2 separate regions of the Homo sapiens genome follow, and region 1 is linked to region 2. The links come from fine-mapping of genetic effects on gene expression. A gene starts in region 2. The other region holds a variant in brackets. All regions are shown on one strand. Distances are from middle to middle. Region 1 overlaps MRTFA (myocardin related transcription factor A). Region 2 holds the start of SGSM3 (small G protein signaling modulator 3).

Evidence for each region. PIP is the estimated chance that this variant, and not a neighbour inherited with it, causes the effect. A credible set is the group of variants that fine-mapping cannot tell apart.
Region 1: its variant is the best candidate, but not a certain one, in a credible set for the expression of SGSM3 in whole blood (TOPMed, PIP 0.63).

Annotation. Positions count from the first base shown.
Region 1 is chr22:40,415,042-40,419,556 of GRCh38, reverse strand. MRTFA (myocardin related transcription factor A) reads left to right here. Exons shown (of 15, transcript NM_020831.6): 12 at 173-1,183; 13 at 2,064-2,216; 14 at 2,511-2,571. Among named protein-coding and RNA genes, the nearest start is that of SGSM3, 47 kb to the right of the region's middle. RefSeq lists enhancers at 2,667-3,166, 3,872-4,271. The variant C/G (reference allele first, on the strand shown) is at 1,885.
Region 2 is chr22:40,368,823-40,372,822 of GRCh38, reverse strand. It overlaps SGSM3 (small G protein signaling modulator 3), which reads right to left and starts at 2,229. Exons shown (of 22, transcript NM_015705.6): 1 at 2,135-2,229. ADSL (adenylosuccinate lyase) reads right to left here. Exons shown (of 13, transcript NM_000026.4): 13 at 3,456-4,000. RefSeq lists silencers at 1,844-2,013, 2,074-2,183 and an enhancer at 2,334-2,543.

The DNA.
Region 1 (4,515 bases), 46 kb before region 2:
GAGGATGCTGTTGGCTCAGGTGGTGGGGGGCATTGCACCCTCCAGGCTGCTGGAGGATTAGGGTAGTTGATGCATCTGCAGTGGCCCATGGGGCCCAGACTGCCCTTCTGCCTGGACCCAGTGCCCTGTGTCCAGCTGCCCCTGGCCTCCCTGACTCTTGACTGCCTTGCAGGTGGCAGAGCTGAAGCAGGAGCTGAAGTTGCGATCACTGCCTGTCTCGGGCACCAAAACTGAGCTGATTGAGCGCCTTCGAGCCTATCAAGACCAAATCAGCCCTGTGCCAGGAGCCCCCAAGGCCCCTGCCGCCACCTCTATCCTGCACAAGGCTGGCGAGGTGGTGGTAGCCTTCCCAGCGGCCCGGCTGAGCACGGGGCCAGCCCTGGTGGCAGCAGGCCTGGCTCCAGCTGAGGTGGTGGTGGCCACGGTGGCCAGCAGTGGGGTGGTGAAGTTTGGCAGCACGGGCTCCACGCCCCCCGTGTCTCCCACCCCCTCGGAGCGCTCACTGCTCAGCACGGGCGATGAAAACTCCACCCCCGGGGACACCTTTGGTGAGATGGTGACATCACCTCTGACGCAGCTGACCCTGCAGGCCTCGCCACTGCAGATCCTCGTGAAGGAGGAGGGCCCCCGGGCCGGGTCCTGTTGCCTGAGCCCTGGGGGGCGGGCGGAGCTAGAGGGGCGCGACAAGGACCAGATGCTGCAGGAGAAAGACAAGCAGATCGAGGCGCTGACGCGCATGCTCCGGCAGAAGCAGCAGCTGGTGGAGCGGCTCAAGCTGCAGCTGGAGCAGGAGAAGCGAGCCCAGCAGCCCGCCCCCGCCCCCGCCCCCCTCGGCACCCCCGTGAAGCAGGAGAACAGCTTCTCCAGCTGCCAGCTGAGCCAGCAGCCCCTGGGCCCCGCTCACCCATTCAACCCCAGCCTGGCGGCCCCAGCCACCAACCACATAGACCCTTGTGCTGTGGCCCCGGGGCCCCCGTCCGTGGTGGTGAAGCAGGAAGCCTTGCAGCCTGAGCCCGAGCCGGTCCCCGCCCCCCAGTTGCTTCTGGGGCCTCAGGGCCCCAGCCTCATCAAGGGGGTTGCACCTCCCACCCTCATCACCGACTCCACAGGGACCCACCTTGTCCTCACCGTGACCAATAAGAATGCAGACAGCCCTGGCCTGTCCAGTGGGAGCCCCCAGCAGGTACCTGGGTATGGGAGGAACCGGGCAGGGCCCAGAGGAGGGTGGGAAGAGCGTCTCGCTACAGCCCTCTTGGGCCAGGGGACCCCTCGTGCTGGACATTTTGTGTTTGCTTCATTTAATCTTCCTTCACCAGGGGGGTACTGAGACTTAGGAAAGTTAAGGGACCTGCCTCAGACCCCCTAGCTGTAGGGCGGAGCCATTGGTGAGCTCCCCACCTCTCTGGCTGTTGAGACTAGAACATTTCGGCACCTCAGCAGCAGGACTCCTGAGCAGCCCGTACCCAGGCTGGGCCTGCCCTAGTGCTGCTCTGTGGGGAGTGGCCAGTGAAGGTCAGAGGTAGCCTGCCCCGGGGAGAGGCTGTGGGGTCCTCTGGCCAGGATCCAGCTCAGGGTCCTCTCCTCAGAGAGGCTAGCTGTCCCCACCAAGGTGTCAGCAGCGGAAAGCTCCCTCAGCAGACCCTCTCTCAGCCCAGGCCACAGGTGAGGCTGCCCTAAGGCTTTATGTAGCCTCGTGGTCCTGCAGAACTTGGGGGTAGAGAAGACAGTGACAGGAACAGGTACCTCAGGATAGGAGACAGGGGTCCCTGAGCAGCCCCAAGCAGAGAAAGAAGCTGCAGAAATCTCAGGGGGTGACCAGCCCAGCCCAGAGACCTCTCCCAAACCTCAAGGGGCCAGGCACCCCCTGCAGGGTTGAGGGCCCCC[C/G]ATCCTGTATTCCTTCCTACCTAGTGGCTTTCATGAAAGCTCCCTAAAAGCCAGTGCCTCCCATCTTCCCTCCTAGAGTGTGAGAGGCCCTGGCCCTATCCCCGCCCCCCGCCCCCTACAAGGCAGGTCTGCACCCCCAGCCCCCTGGCCACTGGTCCTCTCCCTGCTCTCCTGTCCAGCCCTCGTCCCAGCCTGGCTCTCCAGCGCCTGCCCCCTCTGCCCAGATGGACCTGGAGCACCCACTGCAGCCCCTCTTTGGGACCCCCACTTCTCTGCTGAAGAAGGAACCACCTGGCTATGAGGAAGCCATGAGCCAGCAGCCCAAACAGCAGGTGAGGAAGGCGGGCTAGGCCTGGCTAGTGTTGGCAGCTGCCCTAGGCTGCTGGGCTGAGGCTCCTACAGCCCCACCCGGAGGAATAGGGGGCAGGCGAAGCCCAGCTTCAGGGTCAGAGAGGCCTTGGGGAGTGGGTTGTTAGGGGACGGGCTCCAGGAGTCCGGGCACGCCCATGGGTCCTGTGGATCTGGCTGCTTATTCTGGGGCAGAGGGAGGGGCCTCATTCGTAGTTCGGGCTGGGAGCCCCCATTCAAGATTTTTATCTCTTTTTTTTTTTTCCTTTGTCCCACAGGAAAATGGTTCCTCAAGCCAGCAGATGGACGACCTGTTTGACATTCTCATTCAGAGCGGAGGTAACCCCAGGTCCCCTGCTGCCTCCCTGACGGCCTTCTCTGTTCATAGGTGTCTCTAGCCCTGGGTTGGTTTGTTTTTATTGAATGCTTCCGTGCGTGACCAGTCTTGGGCAAGCACTGTGGATGCAGTGGTGGCTGTGAGCCCTCCCGTCTCCAAGGCCTGGGCGAGAGGACCAGGGAAGGTGCCGTCCTTCAGCTGGAAGCACTGCCCCAAGGCCCTCGCCTCCCAACGAACAGAAGAGACATTTGCCCTTGTGGAGCTCACAGTGCAGCCTGGGGAGGTGGACAACAAATATAAGAAATAAGCAGATCATATGGAAGATCCGAGAGGAGCCTTAGGACAAAAATGGAGGAGAGGGAGAGGTCTGGGGAGCCTGGTGGGGAAGGTCCAGGATGTCTCCTGTGAGCAGGGGCAGCTGTGTGCATCTGTGCGGCCTCGGGAGTACCTGGCGGGTTGGAGTGGAGTTGAGGAAAGGGGAAGAAGGCCTTCATGGCCAGATCATGCGTGGCCTCCTGGGCACCAGGGCAGGGTGGCTTTGGCTCCATTGTGTGGGAAGCCATCGCACAGCCTTGAGCAGAAAAGGCCTGGTCTGATGCAGGACCCAGGCGATAGTAGCCGTGCAAGGGCAGAAGCAGGGAGCCCCAGGTTGGGGGGCGACTGGAGAGCTGGGCTTTGGCCCAGCAGGCAGCAGTGGCGGGCAGAGGAGCGGCTGGAATCAGCCCCATTTGGAGAGAGCCAGGTTGGTGTCTTTATGGATGAAGTGGGGGGAGAGGGAAGGAACAGCCAAGGATGACTTCAAGGGCTGTGGCCTAAAGGGCCAGGGTGGAGTGGCCATTGATGGGGTGAGCTGGGGAGGGGGCACGTGTGGGACCACATTGCGCGGTCCCTGATGGGGTGTGTCACGAGACCGAATGGAGGGTTCACAGGGACAGTTGACATCAAGTGGCATTTGTGAGAGAGGTCTGGGCTGGAGGTAGGAGTTGGAGTGTTGTCACATCTAGATTGGCAGTTGGAGCTGGGAGGCTGCCGAGGGTGTGAGGTGGGGGAGCAGAGGTTGGGGCTAAGCCCAGCCTTGGGGGTCGGGAGGACAAGTAGTGGCAGGGTGCGGTGTCCTGGAATCCAGCCGTGACCAAGGGAGCTGAGGACCGAGGCCTGGACACGGAAGGTAGGCATCATGGGCACAACAGGAAGTCCATGAGAGGCCTGGGAGCAGGGTGGGGGTGGCCGTAGAGAGCTCTCTGGGAGGTTCCCCTGCAGAGGGGAAGAAGGAGGTAGGGCAGATGCTGGGCAGGAAATAGCGCGCGTCTGTGTGAGGGGACCCAGCTGGGAGTAGAAGATCCCAGATGACCCCGAGATGGTCCTGGGGAGGAGCTCACTGGCGGCAGCAGGCAAGAAGTCTGGGCCTGTGGTGCCGATGCTGGGTGGTGAGCGTGGACTTCTCTTTGAGTGTCTCAGTGGCTTCAGGAGGAGGAGGAGCGGCTGAGGGGTGCAGGCAAAGTGGGAGCTCAGCCTGGAACCACAGCTCTACCAGAGTAGATGTGATGTTGTGTGAATTTTATTTCAATTTAAGACAAGAGCTCAGTCACTGGTGTTCCTGTGAGGTCTGTAATTCTCAAGCCCTAGGGAGAATCCCTGGGTCCCTGGGGTCTGAGGCGCATCTCTCACCAGTGCAGGTGGCACTGAGGCGGCAGGTATGGGACCCGCTGTGAGGACGGCTGGGCTGGGCGCTCAGGAGCGAGGCCTTGGCGTGAGCTTCAGGAGGTTCCAAGGGAAGGAGGTGCTACCCCAGAGATATTGTTCAAGAAGGAAAAGGGAACAGGCTTTGAACTCTAGCTTCTAAGGGATGGCAGAGAAAGGGAGATGGTGGGTGTGGGTGCTGCCTGCCGCCAAAGGGACACTGAAAAGTGGCCCAAGAGGTGGCAGTGATGCCAGAAGCAGGTGTT
Region 2 (4,000 bases):
GCCAAAACCTTCATTGAGAACTAAGAAGAGAAAAACTGAAAACACACAGAGCTTTTTTTAAGCTTCTGAGCCAGCAGGCTGTTCCTACATCCACTCCAGGCATAGAAAGATGGCTGTAAAATAAAAGAGATGATTATCTCCTCCCTTCCCTTCTCAATATTTCACCCTAATGTCGGGTTCATTTCTGTGAGGTTCTACCCGAGTTCACTTTTCTATCAACCTGACATGTTTCCAAATTCACGAGGTATGCGTTTTTATATTGAAGCAATTGTTTGTTTACAGCCTTTTAATGTTCTGGTCATGGGTTATGTTAACCTATTACCCATATCTGATCAATAGACACCTCACCCTCTCCCCTCCCAGACCACACACCTCCACGCTTAAAAAGGGACAGGGAGGGCCAGGCACGGTGGCTCACGCCTGTAATCCCAGCACTTTGGGAGGCCGAGGCGGGCAGATCACGAGGTCAGGAGATCGAGACCATCTGGCTAACACGGTGAAACCCCGTCTCTACTAAAAATACAAAAAATTATCCGGGTGTGGTGGCGGGCACCTATAGTCCCAGCTACTCGGGAGGCTGAGGCAGGAGAATGGCGTGAACCCGGGAGGCAGAGCTTGCAGTGAGCCGAGATCGCGCCACTGCACTCCAGCCTGGGCAACAGAGCGAGACTCCGTCTCAAAAAAAAAAAAAAAAAAAAAAGGGGGGGGGGACAGGGAGAAGAACTAAAGCTCAGGCTACTATGATAATTAGGGATGAAAAAGCTACATTCACTTAGGATTATCAAAAGCCAGGAAAGATATCTATAGAATTACAAATTAATCGGGCCTGGCGCAGTGGCTCACGCCTGTAATCCCAGCACTTTGGGAGGCCCGAGACGGGCGGATCACCTGTGGTCAGGAGTTCGAGACCAGCCTGGCCAACATGGCGAAAAACCCCGTCTCTATTAAAAATACACAAATTAGCCGGGCGTGGTGGCGGGCGCCTGTAATCCCAGCTACTCGGTAGGCTGAGGCAGGAGAATCACTTGAATCCGGGAGGCGGAGCTTGCAGTGAGCCGAGATCATGTCATTGCACTCCAGCCCGGGCAAGAGCGAAACTCCCGTCTTAAAAAAAAAATAGAAAAGAAAAGAAAAGAAGAATTACAAATTAATCACCAAGAACAGAAATAGTGTAAAAACAAAGATGTAATTCAACTGTTTAGAGTGCAGAGATAATTGGAACTAAAAGAGCAAGAAAAGCGGGAAACATATGTACCTATAAACCTAATCACAAACCTGTCACAAAAACTACGAGTAAACGAGTCGAAGTTGAAAATGAGTTTTTGTGAATCAGAGTCTGATTTGACTTGAATTTACTAAGAAAGAATAAGAAAGGTGTAGAACATTCCAGGACATCTCTATCCCACCGCAAAACAAAAAAGAGCCATCAACCCACCACAAACGTGCAGCGTGAGACTGGAAGATACACTAGTCACCCAGTCACTGAAAACAACCTTTGAAACATCTTTATTTTTCTTTCCAAATAAAAAAGAGCCTAGGTCAGTAAACTAAGTATGAGAATAATTTTCAAAATTCCAGTCCTAACCACACCGGATGATTCTGGCTAACGTATGCCTCAGTTTCCCCCGTGCTAAAATGCAAACACACCGGTGTTCCGAGTCTCGGGCCTGGATCCGAGCCCGGGTTCTGCACCTGGATCTGAATCTTAAAGGGAAAACCGCAAGTTAAACCTGAGGAGGAGTCTGCAGCTGTCCCGGTGCCAGAGCCAGCCAGGCTCTTTTTAGAAAGCCCCCCGCCTCAGGCGCGGTTTTCGTAAAACCGCTCCCGGCTGCCAGCGCGGTGGATTCCGGCTGGCGCCCCGAACACCTGAGGTGGCCTCGGCCGTCTAGGGGCGGCCGCACCGGAGGACGCAGCCGACCTCCCCGCCCCGCCGCGTCCCCGGCCCCCATTCCAACGGCGACGCGAGCAAGGTCGGCCCGGCGGCTCTCCGGCCCGAGGCGGTGCTTCTCTCGTGGGCGCCTTCGGCCCATACGACCCTCGGTCGGACAGTCCGACCACAGCCGCCCCGCAGCCCCCGCCTGAGGGGAACTTGTAGGCGCCGGTGGGTCTCCGCTGACTCCCGCCCCGCACTCACCTGCCCCACGGGCCACCTCAGCGCCAATCCGGGTCGGGTTAGCAGCTTCCCCACTCGCACCCAGTCAGCGCTCAGCGGCGCCTAAGCGCACGCGTGGCGGGGCGTGGCATGGGCGGCCGCGGGTCATGCTGGGGGCTGTAGTCGTTCCCGCCCACTAGGCGGGGCGCGTCCAGGGGCTTTGCGCCCCCATCCCAAGGCCAGCATGCATAGCGATGATTTCTTCGTCTGCACCGCAGCCTGAGAAGCTTGGGACAGTATGGTGTGGACCAGCAGTCAGGGTGGTGGGAGATAGACGCTGCAAATAACTTGCTAATTTTTTTTTTTTTTTTTTTTTGAGATGGAGTCTCGCTCTGTCACCCAGGCTGAAGTGCAGTGGCGTGATCTCGGCTCACTGCAACCTCCACCTCCCAGGTTCAATCAGTTCTCTGCCTCAGCCTCCCGAGTAGCTGGGATTACAGGCGCCCGCCACCACGCCCAGCTAATTTTTTTGTATTTTTAGTACAGTATTTTTAGTAGAGACGGGGTTTCACCATGTTGGCCAGGCTGGTCTCGAACTCCTGACCTCAGATGATCTGCCCGCTTCAGCCTCCCAAAGTGCTGGGATTACAGGCGTGAGCCACCGCGCCAGGCCGGAAAACGAAATTTTCTGAGTACCTTCTGTGTCAGATTCTATGCTGTGCAATTCCCATCTCACCAACCCTCACATCCACCTAGGCTTCATATCACCTTTCTAGGGACTCCTAACCCTCGTGCTTCCACTAAAGCTGTGTTTACAAACATCAGGCTCTCCTGGTTCTTAAATGAAACTGAGCATCAGCCAGGGAAAGAGGGCATTAAGTGTCCAGGTGTCTGACTTCAGCTGAGCAGACATTTCATCAGTTGCCCCAAGTTCTGCCCAGAACCTGACATCTGGGTAGTTCTGATGCTGGAGTCCGTGTGAATTTAAACCAATCTTAAAGAAAATACAACAGCCTGGGTTAACAGAGTGAGACCCTGTCTCTACAAAAAACAACAAAAAATGAACCACGTGTGGTTGTGTGTGCCATAGTCCCAGCTACTCAAGAGGCTGAGGTGAGAGGATCGCTTGAGCCCAGGAAATCAAGGCTGCAGTGAACTGTGGTCATGCCACTGCACTCCAGCTTGGGCGACAGAGCAAGATCTTGTCTATATATATATATAAAAGATAGATATATGAATGTATATTATATATAATATATATGAATGTATATTATATATAATATATATGAATGTATATTTTATATATATACATAAATGTACATTTAATATATATATGTTTTCCAGTGAACACGCAGACCACCCATCAAATTAAAATGTTACATGGGAAAATCAGATTACAAAGTTGCATACAAGTATGTAAATACAAAAATAAAGGAGAATGGAAAAGGAAAGAAGACAAGAGATGCACCAACAAATCCACCCATTCAAATAGTCCAGGAAGAAACCAGGTCAAATCGCCAATCACTGGAGATCATTAGTCTAACAGAATTGTTAGGACAGGAACAAGACTGTTATTTCCTTATTTTCTATGAGGAAATGTATTAACTAAAATCCATGGTATCCTATATCCCCAGTATCTGTTATGTAATATAAATTCTCACATTACAGATAAACTGATAGTAGTTGCTGCCTCCAAGTTGCCCATAGCAGAGAAGGAAGTAGACAGAATATCTGGTCAGAGTCCCATGACTTAATTTCCTTGTGTCAGACTTAGTATCCTTTCAAGATTTTTTCTGTTTTGTTTTTTCAGATGGAGTCTCGCTCCGTTGCCCAGGCTGGAGTACAGTGGCATGATCTTGGCTCACTGCAACTTCTGCCTCCCAGGTTCAAGCAATTCTCCTGTCTCAG